Homo sapiens: one gene and its partners. The protein of the gene in region 2 purifies or fractionates together with the protein of the main gene of each other region. This does not show direct contact. Each region holds a gene or a part of one and is shown on either strand. Other genes may lie near its edges. The genes, in order: SLC27A4, UBXN4, VPS13C and VPS13A.

Region 1 (7,004 bases), on a different chromosome or scaffold from region 2:
ACAGCAGAGATGTCTTCCTGGGCTTCCTGCCATCTAAAGCAGTCCCTAGTCCCCCTCTGCCTCTCTCCATGCTATCATCTTCTGTTTATTATTATTTATTTTTTGAGATGGGGTCTCATTCTGTCACCCAGGCTGGAGTGCAGTGCCACTATGACGGCTCACTACAGCCTCGACCTCCTGGGCTCCAGGATCCTCTTGTTTTAGCTTCCCTAGTAGCTGGGCCTATGGATGCATGCCACCACGCCTAGCTAAGTTTTTTTTGTTTGTTTTGTTTTTTTTTGTTTTTTTGTTTTGAGATGGAGTCTCGCTCTGTCACCCAGGCTGGAGTGCAATGGCGTGATCTCAGCTTACTGCAACCTCCCTTTCCCAGGGTCAAGCAATTCTCCTGCCTCAGCCTCCCAAGTAGGTGGGATTACAGGGGTGCACCACCATGTCCAGCTAATTTTTATTTTTAGTAGAGACGGGGTTTCACCATGTTGACCAGGCTGGTCTCGAAATCCTGACCTCAGGTGATCTGCCCACTTTGGCATCCCAAAGTGCTAGGATTACATGCCTGAGCCACCGTGCCCAGTCAAGTGGTTTCTTTTTTTTTTTTTTTTTTTTGGCGGGGGGAGTGGATGGAGTCTCACTCTGTCGCCCAGGCTGGAGTGCAATGGCGTGATCTCGGCTCACTGCAACCTCCCACCTACTGGGTTCAGGCGATTCTCCTGCCTCAGCCTCCCGAGTAGCTGGGATTACAGGTGCCTGCCACCACGCCCGGCTGATTTTTTTTTTAATTGTTAGTAGAGATGTGGTTTCACCATGTTGGTCAGGCTGGTCTCAAACTCCTGATCTTGTGATCCCCCCGCCTCAGCCTCCCAAAGTGCTGGGATTACAGGTGTGGGCCACCGGGCCCGGCTTTTTTTTTTTTTTTTTCTTTTGTAGAGACAGGGTCTTGCTATGTTGGCTCGGCTGGTCTTGAACTCCTGGCCTCAAGCCATCTTCCTGCCTTGACCTCCCAAAGTGCTGGTATTCCAGATATGAGCCACTGCACTATGCCCTTATTTTCTTTAGAGCATTCACCACTCTGAAATTATTTTGTTGGTAGAGCTTGGCGGGGGGTGGCTCATGCCTGGAGTCCCAGCACTTTGGGAGGCCTGGGGGGGCAGATGACTTGAGCTCAAGAGTTCCAGACTAGCCTGAACAACATGATGAAACCTCGTCTCTACTAAAAATACAAAAAATTAGCCAGGTGTGGTGGCGCACACCTGTAGCCCTAGCTACCCAGGAGGCTGAGGTAGCAGGAGCACCTGAGCCCAGGAGGTGAAGGCTGCAGTCAGCTGTGATTGTCTGGGCAACAGGAGTGAGACCCCATCTCAAAAAAAAAAAATTAAAAAATTTTAATGACAATACTGTGATGAGCGTGACACCAGCACAGTGAGCACTGAGTGAGGGATGACCTATTCCATCTCACTTCCACCTGTCCTCTGTGCGGCCAGCTAGACTGTAAGCAACTGAAAGGCAGGCTGTCCTGTTCTGTGTTGTCTTGCTTCTCCCCCTCAGGCCTGATCCAATGTCCGGTGGTACTGCTTTGGTTTCTCCAGTGTGACGAGCCTGACTGAAGGAGAGCAGGTGGCTGGTCACCAGCATCCTCCCGCTAACTCTCACCTGCCCACTTGCATATGACCTCAGTAGTTGATGTGGAAGTACTCATGATTATACTCACGAATCCTGGTGTGCATAAGGTCAGAGCCTCCAATTCACTCTCCCTTTCATTCATTCAAGAAATGTTGTGCCAGGCGCAGTGGCTCATGCCTGTAATCCCAACACTTTGGGAGGCTGAGGCGGGTGGATCACGAGGTCAGGAGATCGAGACCATCCTGGCTGACACGGTGAAACCCTGTCTCTACTAAAAAAAATACAAAAAAATTAGCTGGGCCTGGTGGCGGGCGCCTGTAGTCCCAGCTACTCGGGAGGCTGAGGCAGGAGAATGGCGTGAACCTGGGAGGCGGAGCTTGCAGTGAGCCGAGATCGCGCCACTGCACTCCAGCCTGGGCGACAGAGCAAGACTCCGTCTCGGAAAAAAAAAAAAAATACTCCCCACAAATCTCCACGCTGACCCTGTGAGGTATTATTAATTAGTATGTCCCATTTTTTATATGTAAGAACAAAATGAATCTTGACCTTTCAGCTGAGAAGGCGAACTCAATGCTCATGCCCATACCACTGCACATTCTGCCTCCTGATGGTGATACCCATGAAGGATGTGGTGCTGGAATTTACTCAAGTCCCCAAAAGGAGGCACCCTATATTCCAGAAGAAATAGGTCCAAATCCTTATCAGACCAAAATTTCATCTTTATTTTTATTATTATTAGTTTTCTGAGACAGGCTCTCACTGCTCTGTTGCTCAGGCTGGAGTGCAGTGGCCCAATCTCGGCTCACTGCAACCTTTGCCTCCCGGGTTCAGTGATTCTCTTGCCTCAGCTCCTGAGTAGCTAGGATTACAGACGTGCACCACCACGCTCGGCTAAGTTTTGTATTTTTAATAGAGACAGGGTTTCGCCCTGTTGGCCAGACTGGTCTCGAACTCCTGACGTCATGTGATCTGCCCACCTCAACCTCCCAAAGTGCTGGGATTACAGGCATGAGCCACTGTGCCCAGCTTATTTTTATTTTTTGAGACACGGTCTTACTTTGTTGCCCAGGGTGGAGTTTAGTGGTGCAATCACAGCTCACTGCAGCCCCAAGTTCCAGAGCTCAAGCAATCCTCCCACCTCATCTTCCTGAGTAGCTGGGAGTACAAGCAAGAGCTACCTGGCTAATTTTTTTTTTTTTCCTGTAGAGGCAGAGTCTCACTATGTTGCCCAGGCTGGTCTTGAACTCCTGGCTGAAGTGATCCTCCTGCCTCAGCCTCCAAAAGTGCTGGGATTACAAGCTTGAGCCACCACGCCAGTCCCAGAATCTTTTTTTTTTTTTTTTTTTTTTTTTTTTTTGAGATGGAGACTTGCTCTGTCGCCCAGGCTGGAGTGCAGTGGCGCAACCTCGGCTTACTGCGACTTCCGCCTCCCAGGTTCAAGCAATTCTCCTGCCTCAGCCTCCCAGGGATCTATTAATGTTTAAGGACAAGTGGCAACTGTGGATGCCCAACATGGTTACTTAACAAGAAACCAATTTTTCAGAGGCCAAGAGTCCCAACAGGGCCGAGAATCTGGCCACTCGCCTATGGCTCTGGAGGTGGCATGACAAATAAGGGTGGCATGACAAATATAGGTTAACTGATTTGTTGCAGGGACCAGAGATCATAGATGGTGAAGTTAACTAAGGGCCTCCAAATCCGTGTCCTTTGTGCCAACAGGTGTGCCAGGCTGCTCACAAGACACCATGGTACGAGAAAGGATTTCTCGTAGTCACCTAGACACCAGGTTTATGGCTGTGTCGCAGCAAAGTTGGGTGTGACTTATGATTTTCGTTCTGAACCTTATTTGTTAGATAGGTCCTGGAGTCCTTAAAACACGCAGGTGAAAGTCAGGGAGTAGGAGCCATCAAAATTCGACTCTGGTGGGACTCGAACCCACAACCTTTGAATGACCACACTAGGCTCAGCTAGAAGTCCAATGCGCTATCCATTGCGCCACAGAGCCGGCTGCGGAACCCGGCCGCCCCGCTCACCTCTGCCTGAAACCGCCCTCTTAGCGAGCTTCTAGGTGTGGTGCTGGGTGTTTGCTGAACTCGGCCGGGGCCCGAGAGCGTGCTCCGGGTTTTCGGCTGTGGTGTGGACTGGGGTGCTCTTCCTACATCCGGGCGCTGGGGACAGCAGGGGGCAAGGGCCGGGGTCGGCAGGGAGGAAGGGCCGGGGTGAAGCCCGCCTGTCTCCTCGCGGACTCGGGGGTCTCCTCGGCTGGGTGGGGCCGCGCGGCGTGGACTACAACTCCCAGCGTGCCGCGCGGCGGCGCCGCCCGAAGCCGTTGCGCGAGCAGGGCGGGCTGGGGCCGAGCGGCGTCAGGCGCGCTGGGGCTGCGCTGCGCCGCCGGCTCTGTGGCTTGCCGGCTTCGGGGAAGGTGCGGCAGGCGGTGCTGCGGCCTGGCACAGCAGGTTTGGGGTGCGGGAGGCGGGCGGGGTAGGAGCGCGGCGGGCGGGGCCGGGCGGCGGGCGGGGCTGGCGGGGCGGCCGGGCCATGCAGGGCGCAGAGCCGGCTAAACCCTGCTGAGACCCGGCTCCGTGCGTCCAGGGGCGGCTAATGCCCCTCACGCTGTCTACGCTGCTGCAACCGGGCCGCATCTGGACGGGGCGCCGCGCGGCGGAGCCGACGCCGGGTGAGCATAGACCGGGCTGGTGGGTTCCCGGGTGGGGACATGTGCCAGGCCGAGTCGGGCGAGGTGGCGGTGCGGACCCCAGGTGGGGGGCGCGCCCTGCGGCGCTATTTCCCCGACAGACGCACTGTTACCTTGCTGTCTAGGGGCGAGGGCGGCACGCGTGACCCGGGACAGGGGCCCGAGGGAACTAGTCACCCTCTTCTGGCCTCTTCTTGCCCCAGCCTTCCAGGACAGGTTCCTGCCCCTCTGCTATGGCGGGCTATGGGAGGCCAGAGATCTGAGGACCCTGGACCCTGGCGTTGGGGTTGAGGACTCTGGTTCAGTTCCCCCGCCCCCGGCTTTTGCTTTTCGCGAGGGGGAGGGGGAGATGGTCTCCCAGGGCTTCTTGTGGTCCAGACCATTCCCTTTTCCTGGCTTGGAGGCTCTCAGGCCATTTCACATTTGTGACCTTCATCTACTCCCAAGAACAGGAAAACTCGGAGAAAAACAGTCCCATCAGATGTCCCCTTGATCGAGTCCTCAAAGCTCCAGGAATAGAACCCAAGAGTCCTAGCTCAACCCAGCCCCTGAAGCACAGTCAAGTCATTCGCCTTCCCCTAAGCCCTAGACCCCAAAGATTCATCCGAGTGGCTGTGTGTGTCTGTGTGATGGGTGGTGGTGTCTTCAAGGTCCTCCTCGCCTCCCTCAATCAGCTTTGCCCCCTGGGCGGTCACCTTTCAAGCACTTCCAGGCTCTAACTCGTTTTCTGGGTCGCCCTCTATAGACCAACAGACGCACTGCGATACCTGAGTCTATGGGCAGGGACCAAGCAGGGCTCCTTTTCCAGGGAGCTGCCCCTTTGACTTGGCCTGGTCATCCACAGAACCTCCCTGGGTTCTGGGTGGGGAGTCGAGCCAGAGACTTTTTTTTTCTTTTTTTGAGACGGAGTCTCGCTCTGTCTCCCAGGCTGGAGTGCAGTGGCACAATCTCGGCTCAATGGAACCTCCGCCTCCCGGGTTCAAGCAATTCTTCTGCCTCAGCCTCCTGAGTAGCTGGGGTTACAGGTGTGTGCCACCATGCCTGGCTAATTTTTGTATTTTTAGTAGAGACAGGGTTTCACCATCTTGGTCAGGGTGGTCTCGAACTCCTGACGTCATGATCCGCCTGCCTCGGCCTCCCAAAGTGCTGGGATTACAGGTGTGAGCCACCACTGCCAGCGAGCCAGAGGCTCTTAAGTCAGTACCCACCCCCAGGCCATCCGGTTTTAGGGACCCTGGATGTCAGAAGAGTGAACTGTCATGTTTTGGCTAGAAAAGCCTCTTAGAACACGTCTCAGGACAACTCGGTGGTGGCCACTGCGCAGACCAGACTTCGCTCGTTCTCGCATGCCTCGCTCCGCTTTTCCTCCGCAACCATGTCTGACAAACCCGATATGGCTGAGATTGAGAAATTCGATAAGTCGAAACTGAAGAAGACAGAGATGCAAGAGAAAAATCCACTGCCTTCCAAAGAAACGATTGAACAGGAGAAGCAAGCAAGCGAATCGTAATGAGGCGTGCACCGCCAATATGCATTGTACATTCCACAAGTATTGCCTTCTTATTTTACTTCTTTTAGCTGTTTAACTTTGTAAGATGCAAAGAGGTTGGATCAAGTTTAAATGACTATGCTGCCCCTTTCACATCAAAGAACTACTGACAACGAAGGCTGCGCCTGCCTCTCCCATCTGTCTATCTGGCTGGCAGGGAAGGAAAGAACTTGCTTGTTGGTGAAGGAAGAAGTGGGGTGGGACGACAGTGAAATCTAGAGTAAAACCAGGCTGGCCCAAGGTGTCCTGCAGGCTGTAATGCAGTTTAATCAGAGTGCCATTTTTTTTTTTGTTCAAATGATTTTAATTATTGGAATGCACAGTTTTTTTAATATGCAAATAAAAAGTTTAAAAACTTAAAAAAAAAAAGAACACGTCTCACTACACCCATTGCACAGAGGGCAGATACTAAGGTCTAAAATGTGAAAAGGTCTTGCCCAAGGTCACTTGGAGAATGGTGGGCAGAGATGGGACTATGAGACGAGAACCAGCCTCCTGCTTCTCACTCTTGGAATTCCTCACCTCAAGTGCCAAGCCCCTAGCCTGCCCCTTCCAGGCCAAGCCTGGAAAGGGACCCCTGTGGTCAGTCACCCAACTCAGTATGGCTAAGCCTTACCACAGGCTGTCCCCTTGGGATCACAGTGGCCTGGCTGTCTGGGCTGGGAGGTAGGAGACCTGGAGGGTTGGGTGTTTGGGTCCACTAACTGCCCTGTGTCCGCAGGCCACAATGCTGCTTGGAGCCTCTCTGGTGGGGGTGCTGCTGTTCTCCAAGCTGGTGCTGAAACTGCCCTGGACCCAGGTGGGATTCTCCCTGTTGTTCCTCTACTTGGGATCTGGCGGCTGGCGCTTCATCCGGGTCTTCATCAAGACCATCAGGCGCGATATCTTGTGAGTACCTGGCCCAGCCTTTCCTGGGGTCTGCCACACTACAGTGAGCTTCTGGTCCCCCAAATCTCCCCAGGCCAGACCTCATGTTCTCTACCAGCACAGGGCAGCTGAGCTGAGTTCCAGAACAGCAGCCTCTGCTCCACACCCGTACCCTGGCAATAGTACCTGGTCCCTCCATCTCCAAGGTCAAAGTCTTCTCCCAGGGAATCTCCCTAACTTGAGGCTCCCAGGCCTTGGGCAGGCTTGGCCTAGGAC
Region 2 (7,037 bases):
CAAACAAATGCTTCTAAGAACTAGAATTTGCTTTTTTCCCTCAAATATAAAGCATTATTATCATAAAAACATTTAAAAACATAGTAAAAAATCAAGAAAAAAAATTACCCAAAATCCTACCATTTCAGAAATAATTGTAAACTTTTTACGCATTTCCTACTAATCTATTTTCAATGCACGCTATCTCCAAAAATACATACACACTAAAATGATCCCAAAACATTGGGTGACTTAGTTATTATGAAATGAAGAAAATTTATTTTCCATAATTTAAAGGCACACTAGATTCTATCAGCATGCAGTCTACAGTGAAACAAACATGAACCATCACTATATGCAGGTATCCCTGCATCTGCTAATAGAAATTTGTTTTTAAGGCCAGGCACGATGGCTCACACCTGTAATCCCAGCACTTTGGGAGGCCGGGGCAGGTGGATCACGAGGTCAGGAGATCGAGACCATCCTGGCTAACACTGTGAAACCCCATCTCTACTAAAACTATTTTAAAAATTAGCCAGGCATGGTGGTGGGCGCCTATAGTCCCAGCTACTTGGGAGGCTGAGGCAGGAGAATGCCGTGAGCCCGGGAGGCGGAGCTTGCAGTGAGCCAAGATCACGTTACTGCACTCCAGCCTGGGCTACAGAGCGAGACTCCGTCTCAAAAAAAATAAAAAATAAAAAAAAGTAATTTATTTTTAAAAATGCCAGACACGGCCGGGCACAGTGGCTCATACCTGTAATCCCAGCACTTTGGGAGGCTGAGGCGGGCGGATCACGAGGTCAGGAGATCGAGACCATGGTGAAACCCCGTCTCTACTAAAAATACAAAAAAAAAAAAAAAATTAGCCGGGCATGGTGGCGGGCACCTGCAGTCCCAGCTACTCGGGAGGCTGAGGCAGGAGAATGGCGTGAACCCGGGAGGCGGAGCTTGCAGTGAGCCGAGATCACGCCACTGCACTCCAGCCTGGGCGACAGAGCAAGACTCCGTCTCAAAAAAAAAAAAAAAAAAAAAAAAAAAAAAAAAAAAAAGCCAGACACATCAGTCTGTATACAATCTCAAGAATTCTGGAATTCTCATGTATTGCACATTCCCTATAAATCCCTATATTCTTCTTGCCACTGCCAACTCTCAAAGGTGCTTCAGGAAGGTGATGAACAATAAAAAAAAAAAGATATACTTAAATTGACAGATTCTGTTTTTTAAAAACTACTCAGTAAATACATAGTTCAGTAACTGTTGTGAGACAGGCTATACTACGACTTGATGTTTTTGTAAACACAGAAAATTTTTACATAAAGTTTACAAACTTATAGGCAAATTTCTGAATTTATTTTTTTATTTTTATTTTTATTTTTTTTGAGACGGAGTCTTGCTCTGTTGCCCAGGCTGGAGTGCAGTGGTGCAATCTCGGCTCACTGCAAGCTCTGCCTCCCGGGTTCACAGCATTCTCCTGCCTCAGCCTCCCGAGTAGAAATTTCTGAATGCTTTAATCTTGACAGTGATTTTCAAACACATTATTCATTCTGATAGTATCAATATCAAAAAGACAGGAATACCACTTTGTAAGTGCTAATGAATTAATGTTTTCAGCACCAGGCACAGTGAAGCATGCCTGTAACTACAGCTATTTGGGAGGCTGACATGGGAGGATCTCTTCAGTCCAATATTTTAAGACCAGCCTGGGCAACATAGTGAAATCCTGCTTCAAAGAAAAAAATAAATAATAATGTTTTTAGGTAATGATCACTGATAGCTGCTAACATCATAAAGAGAGAAAACAGGGTATTATCTGTCTTCTGATGGAAGACACATCACTACCTATGAAGTAGTCTTAGGACAGGATGAGGGGAGGGGAAACAAACCTGAATCTACCTATCAATACAGAAAACAGGAAAGAACCAACTTGACACTAACACATTGCAGTCAACAAAATCCATACTGTAGGAAACCACAGAACAAATGTATAGAACAAATGACCTGGTGTCTTTAAAATATAAATTCCAAGGAGCAGGGGAGTTGGAGGAGAAGCCTACATACTGAGAGAAATCAATGCTTCCTAATGTGTGGCCCTTGAATAATTTTGAACTAAAAAACTGCAATAAAGTAATAAAACTATGACTTTGATGAGACAACTGAAAAGTCGAACACTGGCTGGTTATTTGATATTAAAGAATTATTATTAGTTTGTGAAGTATTAATATTATAGTTATGCTTAAAAAATTAACAATACTTATACTTCAGAGACATACTAAAATATTTATAGATGAAGTGATACAGTGACTGTGATTTGTTTCAAAATTATTTGGATTGAGTGGAAATGGGTGGAGGTATAGATGAAACAAGACTGACCATGAGTTAATTACCAAAGCTAGTAGACAAGTACATGGGGTACATTACACTGTTACATTACTTTCATATATGTTTGAAACTTCCTATAACAAAAATTTTTTTAAAAGATGGGGAGGAGGAACGGAGAAACAAAATAGACTTGTGGACATCAGGTACTTTGAGGAACCTATAAATGTCCTTATTTCCACTGATTAAATGACTCCATTCCCAAAAATAGGATTCAAGACAGTAAGTGATCAACCTCTCAGAGATATTCAATGTATGATTTACCATTACTTCCAAGTTTTTAGAAGCTGGAGATGACTGTTCTTTTTGCATTCCTGGTACATGTTAGATGGCTGCTTGGTAGAGTAGGAAAGCTTAAAGTTTTTTCAGCAGGATTCATGATGAATTTAGCAAACGGCAGTCAGAATTTAAGTTCCTAATATGCCTTAGATACCCAAAAACATAGCATAAACATTCTTTTTTTTTTTTTGAGATAGTCTTGCTCTCTCGCCCAGGCTATAGTGCAGTGGTGCAGTCACTGCTAACTGCAGCCTCAACTTCAACCTCCTGGGCTCAAGTGATCCTCTTACCTCAGCCCCCCGAGTAGCTGGGATTACAGGCGTGTGCCACCACACCCGGCTAATTTTTGTATTTTTTTTTTTAGTAGAGACAAGGTCTCACTGTGTTGCCCAGACTGGTCTCAAACTCCTGACCTCAAGTGATCCGCCTGTCTTGGCCTCCCAAAGTTCTGGGATTACAGGCATGAGCCACTGTGCCTGGCCTATATTCTTTTTTTTTTTTTTTTGAGACAGAGTTTGACTCTGTCACCCAGGCTGGAGTGCAGTGGCATGATCACAGCTCACTGTAGCCCCAGTCTTCAGGGATCAAGTGATCCTCCCCTCAGCCTCCCAAGTAGCAGGACCAAAGGCACACACCACACTCCTAATTTTATTATTATTTTTTATAGAGACAGGGTCTCACTATGTTGCCCAGGCTAGCCTCTAACTCCTGGGCTCAAGCGATCCTCCCACCTCAGTCTCCCAAAGTGCTGGGAGTGCCCAGCCCAACATCAACATTCTTCTAGTCCAAGAGTATCACTATAAATCAAAGACAATACTTATAAATTTTAAAATTAATAAAATATTAAAACATAAACAAACCTTTTGGTATCGATTTTAATAGCAACAAAACTGTTTGAAGATGCTTCTGTAACTTTATCATCTTCCCAACTTGCAGCCATCTGTGTAGACTGTTCATCATCACCTGTAAAACATTTCAAAAATTCTTATACCAGGCTGGGATCTGCTGATTGCAAACTCTTTTCCCCTGGAAAACGGAAACCTCAAATAAAATATAATCCCACCTATACCACTTTCTGCCAAATTTGAAAACTGAATTTTCCACTAAATGAAAAGTGTGACTGCATACACAGTTCACATCATGAAGAGCAATGAAAACAAACTACACTGGACTATTTAAATGATACAAAATATTTCATAAAAGAAGCCATCTAAATTATGATGCGCAAAGTACCACAATAATAAGCAGTCATCGGTGCAGTGCCTATTTGGGCTTTTGTACATAAGATTTTATTAAAATAAAAGTTGTGGGCTGGGCTCGGTGGCTCACGCCTATAATCTCAGCACTTTGGGAGGCTGAGGCGGGTAGATCACCTGAGGCCAGGAATTCGAGACCAGACTGGCCAACACGGTAAAACCCCATCTCTACTTAGCCAGGTGTGGTGGCGCATGCCTGTAATCCCACCTACATAGGAGGCTGAGGCAGGAGAATTGCTTGCACTCGGAAGGTGGAAGTTGCAGTGAGCGGAGATTGCACCACTGCACTCCAGCCTGGGTGACACAGTGAGACCGTCTAGAGAGAGAGAAAAATAAAAAGTTTGATATCTGTCCTTTATGTGGCACCTTTCTGTTGAGTTCAACATCTCCACTCCACAGCATTTATACTCCAAAATTAATCCAAGGTAGACAGAGGCAGGTACAATTCTGTTTGCAATTTTAGACTTGCCTTTTATTGTAGGTATGCTAATTATAAAAGGTATGCTAACCTATAACTAATCTATGGTGATAGAATTCAGTATAGTGGCTACCTTGATAGAGCATGAAGGAGCCTTCTGGAATGCTGAAAACGTTCTGTATCTTTTTTTTTTTTTTTTTTTTTTTTGAGATGGAGTTTCACTCTTGTCGCTCAGGTTGTAGTGCAATGGTGCAATCTTGGCTCATTGCAATCTCTGCCTCCCGGGTTCAAGCGATTCTCCTGCCTCAGCCTCCTGAGCAGCTGGAATTACAGGTGCCCGCCACCACGCCCAGCTAATTTTTTTGTATTTTTAGTAGAGATGGGGTTTCACTATGTTGGCCAGGACAATTTAATCCACTTTGGCCTTCCTCATTGCAGTTATTCGTTTATGGTAACTCCATCCTTCCAGTTCTCAGGCCAAAAAACTAGTTTTCCTTGATTGTAACTGACTCCAGCTCCAAAATAAATCAAGAATGTAACTTTCTTACCACTTCCACTACTAACTACCCTGATCCAAGCTATCACATCTCACCTGGAAGCCTAGTAAAAGCCTCCAAATTGGTCTTCCTGCTAAGTCTATTCTTAACACAGCAACTTTCTCTAAAAAAAAAAAGATCACATCAACCCTCTGCTTAGATCACACAATGGCTCCCCATTTTCCTCAAAGTAAAAGCCAAAGTCCTTACAGGGCGCTTGAAGGCCCCATACATCAGGACTCCAACTACCTCTGTGACCTCATTCCTTTTTCCTTTCTTGCTATTCTTTTTCCTTCTATTCCTCAAATATGAAAGACACTTCAGCCATAAGGTCTTTGTACTAGTTGTTTCCTCTGCCTGGAATGTTCTTCCCCCAGATAACTACATGGTTAACTTCCAACTCCCTTAAAACTTTGCTCAAATATCAGCTCAATAAAGCTGATACTTAATCACCCACTTTAATATTACAACTCTCCTACTCACTTACTTTAAAATTACACTCTTGAGACATTCCCAAAGCTCCCTTATCTCCTGTTGTTTTTCTGTATTACTTTCACCTTCCAATATACTATGCATTTTTAATTATGTTTACTAGTATCTGTCTCCCCTAACTAGAATGAAGGTTCCATGAAGGCAAGGATTGGTTCCATTTTATTTACTGACAAGACTAAAATCTCTACAAAACATAGTAGGCACCCAATAAGTACTCTGTGGAATAGCTAAATGCCTAATATAGTAAGTATGATGGCATGCCTATAATAATTGACTCTAATGCTGTTTATTTGCATATATTTTGTGAGATGAGATTCAGGAATACCAGAAATAGGAGTTTGAGAAATTTGACCATGGAAAAGTAAACGGGGTCGGGCACGGTGGCTCACTTTGTGAGGCTTAGGCGGACGGATCACGAGGTCAAGAGATCTAGATCATCCCGGCCAACACGGTGAAACCCCGTCTCTACTAAAAATACAAAAATTAGCTGTGCGTGGTGACACACACCTGTAGTCCCAGCTACTCAGGAGGCTGAGGCAGGAGAATCGCTTGAACCAGGGAAGTGGAGGTTGTAGTGAGCCGAGATTGCACCACTGTACTCCAGCCTGGCGGCAGAGTGAGACTCCATCTCAAAAAAAAAAAAAAAAAAAAAGTAAACGGGACTAGAATGCATCCACAGACCAAATGCTCCATTAAGAATGCTCCATTAGCAGACTCCTAGATGTTGAAGATGCAAAATAACGAGAAGTTACTATTTGCAAGTGAGATCACTCTAAATGCATCTTCAGAAACCATCTGATGAGGAGAGATTAAGATTCCAAATAAATGACTCACCTACCAAAGAAAAATAAGTATATGAGAATATTCTTACTACGAACCCTTCTCAGAGAAGGCTGTGAAGAATGAGAAATCCTTTCCATTCATTCTTTTATATGTTCACTATTTTATTGCATTTATTTTGTTCTAGGCATTGAACTGTATACTAAATATAAACCAAATGAGACATTGTCTGCCTTCAACAGAGCTTAAAATCTAATGGTATACAAAATTTTTAAACAAATAGACACTATACGTAATTACAGTAATAAATGCTACTAAAAAGAAATCTATGAGAGAAAATAACAAGAGAACTCTTTATAATGGTCAGAGAAGCCCTCTCTGAGGTGACAGTTAAGCTAAAATCTAAAGGATAAGAGAGCTCAGCCATGCCAACAGCCAGAAGAGTTCACCACGCAGAAGGAATACGTGTGTAGGGAAAGGCCTATGTGATTTGGAATGTTGTGAACAATCCGGAGCTCAAGAAGAGACTGAAGAGTTAAGAGTCAAAGATGACTCTCATATTTATGGTTTATCCAACCAGATGTATGGTAGTGCCAATCAGATGCAGAACACTGGGAGAAACACAGGTTTAGGCAGCACTTACACGTTTAGGCTTGAGAATCCTGGGAGGATCTAAACAGTGATATCACGTAAGTAGCTGAAAGTATAAATCTTGCTTCTTGTGAGGCTGGTGCATCACTCCCTCACCTATACTGTACCATGTGATTAGGGTCCCAGATGTCTCAACCCTACTGGCAGTGTCTGTCCTAGACTCAGCCTAGTGGTGGCAGCAGCTGCTTGAACAGCAGTGGTGGAAAGCTGAATGGAATTACTCAATGCTTAATGACAACTTTCCTAATACTACTGAGTGGGATGACTGAT
Region 3 (7,037 bases), on a different chromosome or scaffold from region 2:
CCCAGTCTTCCCCATGTGTACATATGTAGCTCAATTCATCAGGCAGAGCAACTGTATTCACTATGAGAGGTAAGAAGCTGACTTCTACTGATGGACACTGCAACATGCATCTGACTTCCCTGCTCCTATGAAGTTCTTCCTTCCAGGAAATATAAGTGGTAGATTCTTTGTACTGATGCTCTAAGATTCCAGCTGGCTGGATAAACAATTGACATCTGCAGAAAGAGGAAACAGTGACAATAAAGTTTTGATCCACAACTTAAAAAAAAGCATCTCATTAAATCTTCCTGACAACTCTACAAGATAGGTGCTATTATTCCTGTTTTTACAGATATACAGATGAGGAAACCAGGGCTAAAAAAAAGGTTAGGAAATTCACCCAAAATCACATAGCTAACTTACGGAGGACTTTCTGAAAAGAACAAACAAACAAAAAACAACTCTGTAAACAAGACAACTTAAAAAAATTTTCATTTCAAATACAAAGGCAATCTAATAAAAATAGTCAGAAAAATCCTGACATCAAATATACAGTCAGGAATTTTCACCTGATAAATTCAATGATAATATAAATGTATTTCTCAATGGAAGACTAAATTATGTCTTAAAACTGGCTTTTACTGATCTTTAGTTAATAAAAATATGAAGTTATTTGCCAGAATATAAATCCCCAACTCAATACATTTAAAGTTTAATACATTTAAGAAGTATCTACCTATATGAATCTAAAGGAACATGGAACTCCTCTTCAGGTCTGGCTATCCCAATGCGCTCCAATAGCTTAACATTCTTAACAAATTTATAGATGATAAATGCAATGGAGAAATGGTTTTTGATCTGTTGGACAAAAAAAAATACAAGTTTTTTAAAAGATATGTAAGTTCGAAAGAAAAAATGAGAGCCACAAACAAATACTTTTAGATCTAAAAAATTTCAAACTCAGTATTGGAAGATATTTTTATTGGCAATTGAAAAATTTTAGGGTATTTAAGTGCTATATATATTAAATTTAATGTTTAAGTGTCAGTTGAAAACTGAGATATTCAAATGCTCCATATATTATAAGCTTATGTTTAGTATTAGTCTATATTATCTTTCAAATATGTATTATTCTCTGAAGATTTAAGCCATTTTTTCTCCATGACAATCTTTTCTCAATGTATCATGTATAACAACTAAACAGAAATGGATAGCAAAAAATCATGAGAAAAATAGTACAATTCTTTTCTTGACATCAGTCTGTTACGCATTGGAGCAAATAACAAACTATAAGATAACAATGTCCAAAATTTGAAACCTTTTCATTTGTATCTGATGTTACAGGTAGGAAAAAAAATGTTCTTTTGTTGACCATATGCTGAAACCTGTAGTAATACACAGAAAAAGAAAAATGTTGGATAAAACCTTAAAAGTAGAAAAAATATTTACACAGATTAAGATGCTAAAATGTTTTTCAGAGGGATAGATCATTCCAATATGCCTTCATACATATCTTGAAAAATATAATCCAAGTGACATACAAAGAGAATGGAATGTTTCCTAACTACAATTACAATAATCCTCGGTTCTGAATATTTAAAGGAATATACCAAAAGAGCTTTATTAATTTTGCATTTGTCTTAAAAGACAGAAAACAAAAATGAGCTTTAAGTAAACAAAACTACAGACATTTAAAATAAATATTATCAGAGCAAGCTGGACAGTAAATAGAAGCCATTTCTGTTACTATTTATTTCTGAATAATTACTATTTATTTCTGAATAATCAGAATTGACCTGATGAAGTTTTACTGTATTCCTATATTCAGCTAAATGATTTAACCATTTCTTGGTACACTGAAAGGGATACAATTAACTTTGAAGTATTACCTGTAGAGGAGAGCGAAGGGTAATTACTTTATTCCCTTCAGTTGCATCAATTTGTACCAAGACAGAGTCAGAATGACTGGCATTGGGATTCCGTACATTATACAATCGCCGTCCAGGTCTGGCCACAGGGATATTTGCAACTTCTGTATATCCATGAGGTACTAAGGCAGTGCATAAGTGAAAAGAATTCCAAATATTAATTTGCCAATGTTTCTCTATAACAATCATTAGTACCTCAAAATAATGAAGAGTATTTTTCCTCATCACTAGAAATGATCACCACAAATTGCTTTTCTAAGACATAAACTTAAAAAGAAGACCAGTTACTGTTATAAAATTTTTGGCTGAAAACAGTTTTGCTTGGGGTTTTGAATATAAAAACAAAATCCAACTTATTTCTTATTCTCTCAATCATATAGCAACAATCTTTTTCTTTGTCACAGTGTCAACACTGTAAGACTTCTGAATATAGCTATTTTCTCTCCTCAGTAAACTCCTATCCTTTTAAAAACACATTATATATATAATATTTATATATATTATATAATATATACATTATTTAAGGGCACAAAAATAATCTAGTTTTGTAAAGTTTTCTTAAATCAATAAAGTTTAATTTTCTCAAGTTTAGAAAACAAGAAACAAGAGGTTAGCAATTATATGTTTCAAATGTTGTATCTCCAGATATCTGCAGCAAAATGTTTTTTCACATTTTATCAAAAATAAGCCCACACCAACAACTGCTAAGATACCCTTAAGGAAAACAAATATAGCCTACCAATGGTCAGAGTGAAGAAGGAGCTTTCTTGACGGCTCAATATAGATAGGTTCCCTTGACTTGAAGGTACCATGCTGGCATACTCCAGTTCCAAATTCTGGCCAGCATCAACATCAAAAATATCACTTTTCTCAGGGAAGCCCATTACTCTGAGATTACAATTGGGCTTCACCTTAATGGGAACACCTACAGCATTTTTTACCGTAAAAGGAGCTCTGTCCTTTAAAGAGTAGTCAAAAGTAGAAGCAGTGCCCTCTGAAAAACCCTGAAAAGGAACATATCATCACAGTAAAATTTTTGAAAAACATACATTCTTCCCAAAACCTATACCATAATTACACATTTTTTGGAAACTAATTTTGATGACAAAAAAATTATATGTTTCATTTTAAAATTCCACTTGAAATATTCTAAGCAAGATTCAGACATACTTTTGCTAAATTGTTGAAAACATTAAGACAACTTTTGGATATTGTTATATTCATTGTATTTCCTGAAGAAATATGAATTGCCATTTGTGGCTCAGGAATAAAATCATCTCCTGGCAGCAAACTTTTATCCTGAACTGGGTTCTTCTTTACCTATGAAGAAAAATAACACAGCAAATTTAAATTATTAGCCAGTTGATAATAAAATAAAAATGCTGGAGTTCAGTTCTCCTAAACTGATCACTTTATAGTAATGCTTCGCAAAAGTCTTATTTTCAAAAATATACCATGCTTCACTTTGATTTCATGGAGTTCAGCATTCATTCTTTCAGGGTATAGTCCAAGCATGGGGAAAAGTTTAGAATTACGCCATGAAATTACTCAAAGCCAGCTACAATATTTGTCTCTTATGCATTCCTCAGAGCATAGCTATTTATTCAGTGTCACCCAACTGGTGATTATGTGTTGACGAGCAATCTAAGAGGACCCTGAAGTCTAAACTGATCCCTATTAGAGGTGCCACCTGGAAATGTTTCTCTCCTTCTATTTTTTAAACCAATAACACCTTCAAATAAGTAATATTAATATAATAAACACTTAACTAGCCATCAGATTCCATCAGCTTCTGTTCTAGTAGTATTTCAAAAGCCTTGTAAAACATTCTTTGTTAGCCTCCCTATGCCAGAGAAAGGCAGGTCAGAAAAATATTACTTCTTTATTGAGAGGAAATTGGAACACAGGTTAAGTGACTCATCTTTAACAAAAGAATATGTGGAGTCAGTTTCAGTGCCTGACTCCTTAGTAAGGCTGCCCCAAAGAAGTATGCTACGACAATTTCTTAACAATATATGACTCAAGTTCCTTTTAATCAAGAAAAATGTGCTTCAGTATCTAGGTTTCTGAGGTGTTCTCAAAAAACAACATAAAAAGATAACACACAAGAGTTCATTAACAATTCTCAAATATTCTGGTCTCACCCTTAAAAATCACTGAGTATACTAAAGAGCTTCATTTATGTTTTATCTACCAATATGTACTCTATTAACAATTAAAACTGAAAAAAAATTAAAAATTCATTTAAAAATAAAAATTACATGCTAATATAAATAACATTTTTAATCAAAAATAACTATTTTAAAAATACAGTGAGAAGAGGAACATACACATATATCTCTTTACTGCCTGCCTTAAGGGAAGACAGATAAATTCTCGTTTCTGTTCTGCATTCAATCTGTTGCAGTATCACCTTCATTAGTCTCTGGAAAACTCCACTATACACTCGTGAGAGAATGAGAATGAAAATGACATATGAAAAGAGTTCTGACCTCATGGACAGAGCCCTTAAAAGGGCTTCAAGGATCCTAGACCACATCTTAAGAATCACTGAAATAAAAACTATGAATGAATATGCATAGTATCATTCTATCCAAAGATATTTTAAGATTTCCTTACATCAAGCCTTAAATTCCATTGTCTCTTCCCCTCCACTCTCTCAATCAGTGGCTCCCAGACAGCATGGATCTCATTGTAATAGTGCACCTGGAAAGATACACACAAAATTATAAGACAGTCCTTTGGCTTTAATTACATATTTCTGTAACCAATAGGGAAATTATTAAGTAATCAATGTTATATATCATTAGCCATTTTCAAAACCCATCTAACAATATATAGAGTGTATTTTCCTTTACTCTCTTACTCTATTGTCATAAATTATTTAGCAAATCAATCTTTAAAAAATAATTATCAAAAAACAATACATCGACAAATTAAATGTCAGAACACACTATCTATTCACATATGTACTCATAGTGGCCATGCACAAACAAGAAAAGTGTATATCTTAATTCCAAAATCGCACTTTCAAGAAGTCTCTGAAGGTATTAAGTGATGTGGCCATACCTGTAGTGTCACGTCAGCAACAGCAGCCATTAGAGAAGTCCAATTTTTAATATTTCCTGAAAACTTAGACTCTGCCAATAATAAAGGTACAGTTCGATGTCCAAGGCCACATTCTAAGGTAACTTGAATGGATTCTACAACAACACCACAATTTTCCTCTATCAGTGAATGTTCAATGCCTTTGAAGCTTTCCGTTATTTCTGTTGCCGTGTCAACACCAAGAAACCAAGTGTTATAATCATTAATCGATTTGATACCCCAAAGATTTTCCATTTCCTTAGACGTATCTTTGGATCCATCTTCTTTTGTTTTTGGAGACAATGCAGCCATGATTGTCAACACAGTATTAAGAATTATGGGTGAAATCTTTAAAAAAGAAAGCAGAAAAATATTTATAATAAATTCTTTCCCAGATGAGAATATATACATACATGATTTTAAGTGACATACATTAATTATAAGTGACATTTTTAAATTAAATTTTAATTTTAAATTAAAGTAACTAATTTAAATTTTGAATAAATTCGTAACCAAGAAAAACAAGAGAGAACACAAAATTATGTGTCAAGCCAAGTAATCATGCAACACTGACTTCTACTCAGGTTATCTGGAATTAAATAACTAATGTTATATGTCAGTAGTCAAAATCTAAAGTTAAGCTGATCAATTCAGAGCAAAACAGTGTTATGTGAATAGACAAGTATAGCAATGTAAACAAATTCTTCATTTTAAAAACAGCTACATTAACTAAGCCAAAGTGTGTGATCCTTGTCAAGATACACATAAATATCGGTATGCAACAAGATCTTCTGAAAAAAAAAAAAAGGAAGAAAAAGATATACATTTGCCTTATTAAAGCTGGAAGACTCAAAATCACAGCTCTCCTTTGACTTACCCCAAGATCTATAAATCCTACCTCTTATTATCTTTGGACAGTGCCTTTCTTTGCTCACTTCCCTCACTTCCTATTACTGTGCCTTAGTTCTACACTGATGACATCTTCTACGGCCAACGCCCTCTCAGCCTACACTCCACACTGCCACCAGCATAATTTTTCTACAAACCAAATCTGAGTATGACATTCTTATGTTTAAAATCTTCATCAACTTCCCATAATTTTTTTATCCCACAAGATAAAATTGAAACTCTCTTTAACTTAATGTGCAGAGCTCTTTGTGGCCTAGTGCCTATTCAACCAGCTAGCCAGGATTCTCCCAAAGTTTGAGAAATACTAGGTTAAATAAGTTAACTGTATTCCTTTATTGTTCACTTCTCACAATCCTTACTTAAAATGTAAAGGGATATAATTATATCATCAAAAGCAGGATCTAGTATGTATTGTTTTCCTAACTTACTTGTCAACTTTTTTTCCGTGTCTTATTAATGTCACTTATAATTAATGCTTCCAGTCTTACAACGCCACCACACCATTCTCTCCAGCCATATGTGACCACCCCTCTAAATCTTTTTTTTTTTTTTTTTTTTTTGAGACGGAGTCTCGCTCTGTCGCCCAGGCTGGAGTGCAGTGGCGGGATCTCGGCTCACTGCAAGCTCCGCCTCCCGGGTTCACGCCATTCTCCTGCCTCAGCCTCCCAAGTAGCTGGGACTACAGGCGCCCGCCACTACGCCCGGCTAATTTTTTGTATTTTTTAGTAGAGACGGGGTTTCACCGTTTTAGCCGGGATGGTCTCGATCTCCTGACCTCGTGATCCGCCCGCCTCGGCCTCCCAAAGTGCTGGGATTACAGGCGTGAGGCCACCGCGCCCGGCCACCCCTCTAAATCTTAAAGGATTTTTTCACACCTCTGCCTTTGTGCATATTATCAGTTCTGTCTGGATAAACCTTTCCATGCTCCCCATCTATTTAATCTCCCTTCAAAACTCAAATCAAATAGTCCTGCTTCTACACAGCTTTCCCTGATGTCCTGGTCTGAATTAAAGGCCCCATGCCTGTGCTCCCAACTGCATCTTGGCCATGCCTCTAGCACTGAAAGCTGTAATCACTGATTTCTTTCTTTCTCCCGCATATGTCATTAAGTTTTTTGACAGCAGGGGCTACATA
Region 4 (3,541 bases), on a different chromosome or scaffold from region 2:
CACATACAGTTCTCCAGTGTCTTCCCTTTTAGAGTATACATATTTGCTGCTTTTCCTTTAGTGTTCACAAAAATCCCAAGGTCAGTTTAGTGTGGCTGAGTTGTTGTTATCTGGACCCTAAACAATCATTACCACCTGTAGACAGTTCTTACCTACCCCTCTCCTCCACAATCCTAGTCCATTTGGAGGCAACTATCCTGTGGCCTCCAAGTGAATAAATCTTTCTTACACTTACTTACGTGATATTTTCTATCATAATTATCTCTCTCATTTCTTCCAATAGTAATAGCGGTAATATTGTTCCATTGAATATCTATGCACCTAGCTCATCTCTTAGAAACATCCCACATAGTAGCATCGTATTACTCTCTGGTAAAAAGAAAGATTAAATTAAAAGGACTCTACACAGTGCTGAATTTCCTGCACCTAAATTATTCAGTTATCACTTGCCAGTATTAGTTGATCCTTCAGGCTATGCCAAGTGCCCCCTCATGTAGGCCTCTGTATTAAAAAGATTGGGACAAAATACTTGATTAGTTTGCCTGTAGAAGCTCAAAGTGTGTACCAAATACATTGACAGTGGATGCTTTCATGGCTCAGCCAACACAGTTCAGAGGAATCTTTTCGGCTTCCAGGGCATTGCTTGTTACCTTTTGTCAGGATCAACCCAAATCCTCAGGGATGCTGTTTTTCCACACTGTAAGTCCTAACTCATTAGTGGGTCATGAAATCAACTTAACAGCTCAAGACCAGTATATTTTAAACGTGAAATAATAAAAAATAGAGGAACAATAGAGCATATAAAATGGTTAAGTATTGGTTCCTGAAATACTGTTTCAGCTAAATATTCTATTTACTGTGTATACTGGGTCACAATATAAAGTGTTTCCTGTTATGAAATGCAATTTAAAAAAAGAAAGCTTGAAAGACTGCTGCAGGAGGCACCGGCCATCCAGTGATTGTTGGAAGAGTCTGGATTGTGTGGAGCCTGACCTTAGATAAGGAGCAGCAGATCCACAACTCAGGAAGTCTAGAGATGCTTAGCACTTCTTCTTTTGAGTGAGAAGATGGAATCACTCTTGGTTTCTAAAATATTTTTCTTCTCTGCTGTGTATCGGGCAACCTCACATGATTCAGTGGGACCAGAAAAAGCATAGAAAAATTAGATCCACACACAGCACCCAAAAAAGGCCATAGTCTTTTGTTTACCTAGATGTATTTTAACCTCTTTACCACTAAGCATTTTACTATAATAGAACTGGGGACATACATTGTCCTTTTGAGTCCGTTGAATCTGCACCATCTACCTTTTGGCTGATTCACCATACAGGTGGCAAAGGCCTTTAAAAATGGGGAGCTAATACGTAGGGCACATTCTGGTAGGGCCAAAATATTCAGTGTCTGGGGGGTGCTATGCAAATATCAATGACTTTTTACTAAAAACAGTGGATTTCCTCATTTCTTTAAGATCCAAGTAGAAAATGTAAATAACTTACATTCTGTATGCAGGACTCAATACAGACTTAGTCAATCTGATTTTTTTTGGTGCTTTTCAGTATAGCGCAACTCTAAAAGGAAACCCATTCACCCTCCTTAGTCCTTTGAAGTATACTTTTGAAATTATACCTTATTGTTAATGGCAACCTAATCAAGCTAGGATTTGTCGGTTAAAATTTTGATTCTTGTAATCTGTACTGTCAATTTTTGGCCACTCTGGCTGTTACAGCAAACTTTTCTCCCACTGTCATAATTGGTCTAAAGTAGTATTTGTTTCAGGACTATCCAAAAAGCAAGGCCAGCACATTGAGAAGATGCAGAATCCTACTCTATTACAAACCTCACTCATGTTTCTTTTATTGAAACCTTTTTCTACTTTATATTTCCTCTTTTGTAAATTTTTCCATGTCATTTAAAAAATTTTTTACTTTAGAATTACAGATTAGTTCTTTTTTTAAAGCATTATGGCATTTTCAAAAAAAAAATTATTTTGGTTACCCAAAAAGCTATACAAGAAATATAACTTCAATTTTTTAGGTTGATATGGGTATATTTTTAAAGTTTTTATTACTTTATACAAATACAAATTAATTTATATTATAGTTTAACACCTGCTATGATGATAGATATCACACTGCTATGATAGAAAATCCCTGTCTGTCATTGAACTATTCATTTAGTGTTACTCTGATATGTTAATAATGTATTCCTTCTAATGAAGTCCTTGTAACAAGAAACCCTGTGAGATTGGTATAATGAGATATCAAATAATCAGAAGTATAATTAAAATAGAACATGTTGGAAAATCCCAACATTTCCTGTTATGCCGTCATACCTCCGGTGTTCAGTTTGTTACTCAAAAGTTCCCAGTTCTTAGGCTGAAAAACATTCAAGTAAAAATGTAGCATAGATTACACTGAAATATTTTCAGTATCAATGATTTAATATCCACACAAACTATTAGGAATGGTATCTGGAACTTGTTACAAGGTCAGATAAACTGTTACAGAATTTTAGAAATAATTATCTCTGTATGTGACTGTGTATTACATATAAAAATGAATTTTTCAGGAAAAGTGCACTTTAAAAATACTTTCTCTTGCTAGTTTTTTAAATTGATGAAATAGCCTGTGCTGCTTTGGAATGCTTATTCTTTCTTTGATGAAAATACGGTCATTGATTATGATAATTTTAAAAATATCTATTTCTGCATCGCTGCAGGATTTCCTACACTTTTCTGTTCCTCATCCCTCTTTTATGTGTGCTTGGCTCAGTTGCCTGTTACACAGCCTCTGCCTTGGTTTTGTGTATTCTAAGATAATTTATAAACACAGATATTTACAGTGAAGTTCTTCCTTTTGAAACTAATCTTATTCTTTTATTCCTCTCTCTAAAAATTGGTTGGCCATGCTCACTAATGATTTTTTTTCTTAACAATAAGCATTTCTTGGTATTGGTAGATTTGGATTGCATGGTAAGATGACTGCCCATTTTCACCATGTATACCTTTGTCAAATAAAGATTTCTGATCTTTGGTCTGCTTCTGTTTTTAGTTTTTTGATAGAACTAGAAACATTATTAATACCCTTCCCTTGCCTATATAAATTCCACCCTCTTTGGGGCTGAAACAAATGTGAATAACAGATTGCCCAAGGTCCTGATTTTTCAGTCAAAGCAGGCGACATTCCAGCCCAGCATGATCATTGCTGACTAAAAGCTTGGGGTGGTATAGTACCTAGTAAATTCTCTTTTTTTTTTTTTTTTTGAGACAGACAGTATTGCTCTGTCACCAGGCTGCAGTGCAGTGGCACGATCTCGGCTCACTGCAACGTTCACCTCCCAGGTTCAAGTGATCTTCCTGCCTCAGCCTCCCGAGTCGCTGGGACTACAGGTGTGTGCCACCACGCCCAGCTAATTTTTGTATTTTTTTTTTTTTAGTAGAGATGGGGTTTCACCATGTTGGCCAGGATTGTCTCGACCTAGTGAATTCTTAACCACCGACATTCTGTCTCTTAACCTTAGAAAACTCCGCATGACTCATTTC

Evidence for each region.
Region 1: the proteins of UBXN4 (region 2) and SLC27A4 purify together in Homo sapiens (affinity purification with mass spectrometry; 2 studies listed by BioGRID and IntAct, with this or other methods). This does not show direct contact.
Region 3: the proteins of UBXN4 (region 2) and VPS13C purify together in Homo sapiens (affinity purification with mass spectrometry; 4 studies listed by BioGRID and IntAct, with this or other methods). This does not show direct contact.
Region 4: the proteins of UBXN4 (region 2) and VPS13A purify together in Homo sapiens (affinity purification with mass spectrometry; 4 studies listed by BioGRID and IntAct, with this or other methods). This does not show direct contact.

Annotation. Positions count from the first base shown.
Region 1 is NC_000009.12:128,336,545-128,343,548, forward strand, and holds the start of SLC27A4 (long-chain fatty acid transport protein 4), read left to right. Parts: upstream 1-3,982; 5' UTR 3,983-4,294; intron 4,295-5,612; exon of another isoform or gene 5,613-5,821; coding exon of another isoform or gene 5,822-5,848; exon of another isoform or gene 5,849-6,216; intron 6,217-6,582; coding exon of another isoform or gene 6,583-6,588; coding exon 6,589-6,749; intron 6,750-7,004. UniProt on the Homo sapiens protein: Mediates the levels of long-chain fatty acids (LCFA) in the cell by facilitating their transport across cell membranes. Appears to be the principal fatty acid transporter in small intestinal enterocytes.
Region 2 is NC_000002.12:135,744,827-135,751,863, reverse strand, and holds part of UBXN4 (UBX domain-containing protein 4), read right to left. Parts: intron 3,598-7,037; coding exon 3,495-3,597; intron 1-3,494. UniProt on the Homo sapiens protein: Involved in endoplasmic reticulum-associated protein degradation (ERAD). Acts as a platform to recruit both UBQLN1 and VCP to the ER during ERAD.
Region 3 is NC_000015.10:61,917,421-61,924,457, forward strand, and holds part of VPS13C (intermembrane lipid transfer protein VPS13C), read right to left. Parts: intron 5,343-7,037; coding exon 4,977-5,342; intron 4,614-4,976; coding exon 4,527-4,613; intron 3,228-4,526; coding exon 3,078-3,227; intron 2,912-3,077; coding exon 2,647-2,911; intron 2,030-2,646; coding exon 1,869-2,029; intron 1,365-1,868; coding exon of another isoform or gene 1,302-1,364; exon of another isoform or gene 944-1,301; intron 838-943; coding exon 716-837; intron 216-715; coding exon 1-215. UniProt on the Homo sapiens protein: Mediates the transfer of lipids between membranes at organelle contact sites. Necessary for proper mitochondrial function and maintenance of mitochondrial transmembrane potential.
Region 4 is NC_000009.12:77,418,507-77,422,047, forward strand, and holds the end of VPS13A (intermembrane lipid transfer protein VPS13A), read left to right. Parts: 3' UTR 1-3,031; downstream 3,032-3,541. UniProt on the Homo sapiens protein: Mediates the transfer of lipids between membranes at organelle contact sites. Binds phospholipids. Required for the formation or stabilization of ER-mitochondria contact sites which enable transfer of lipids between the ER and mitochondria.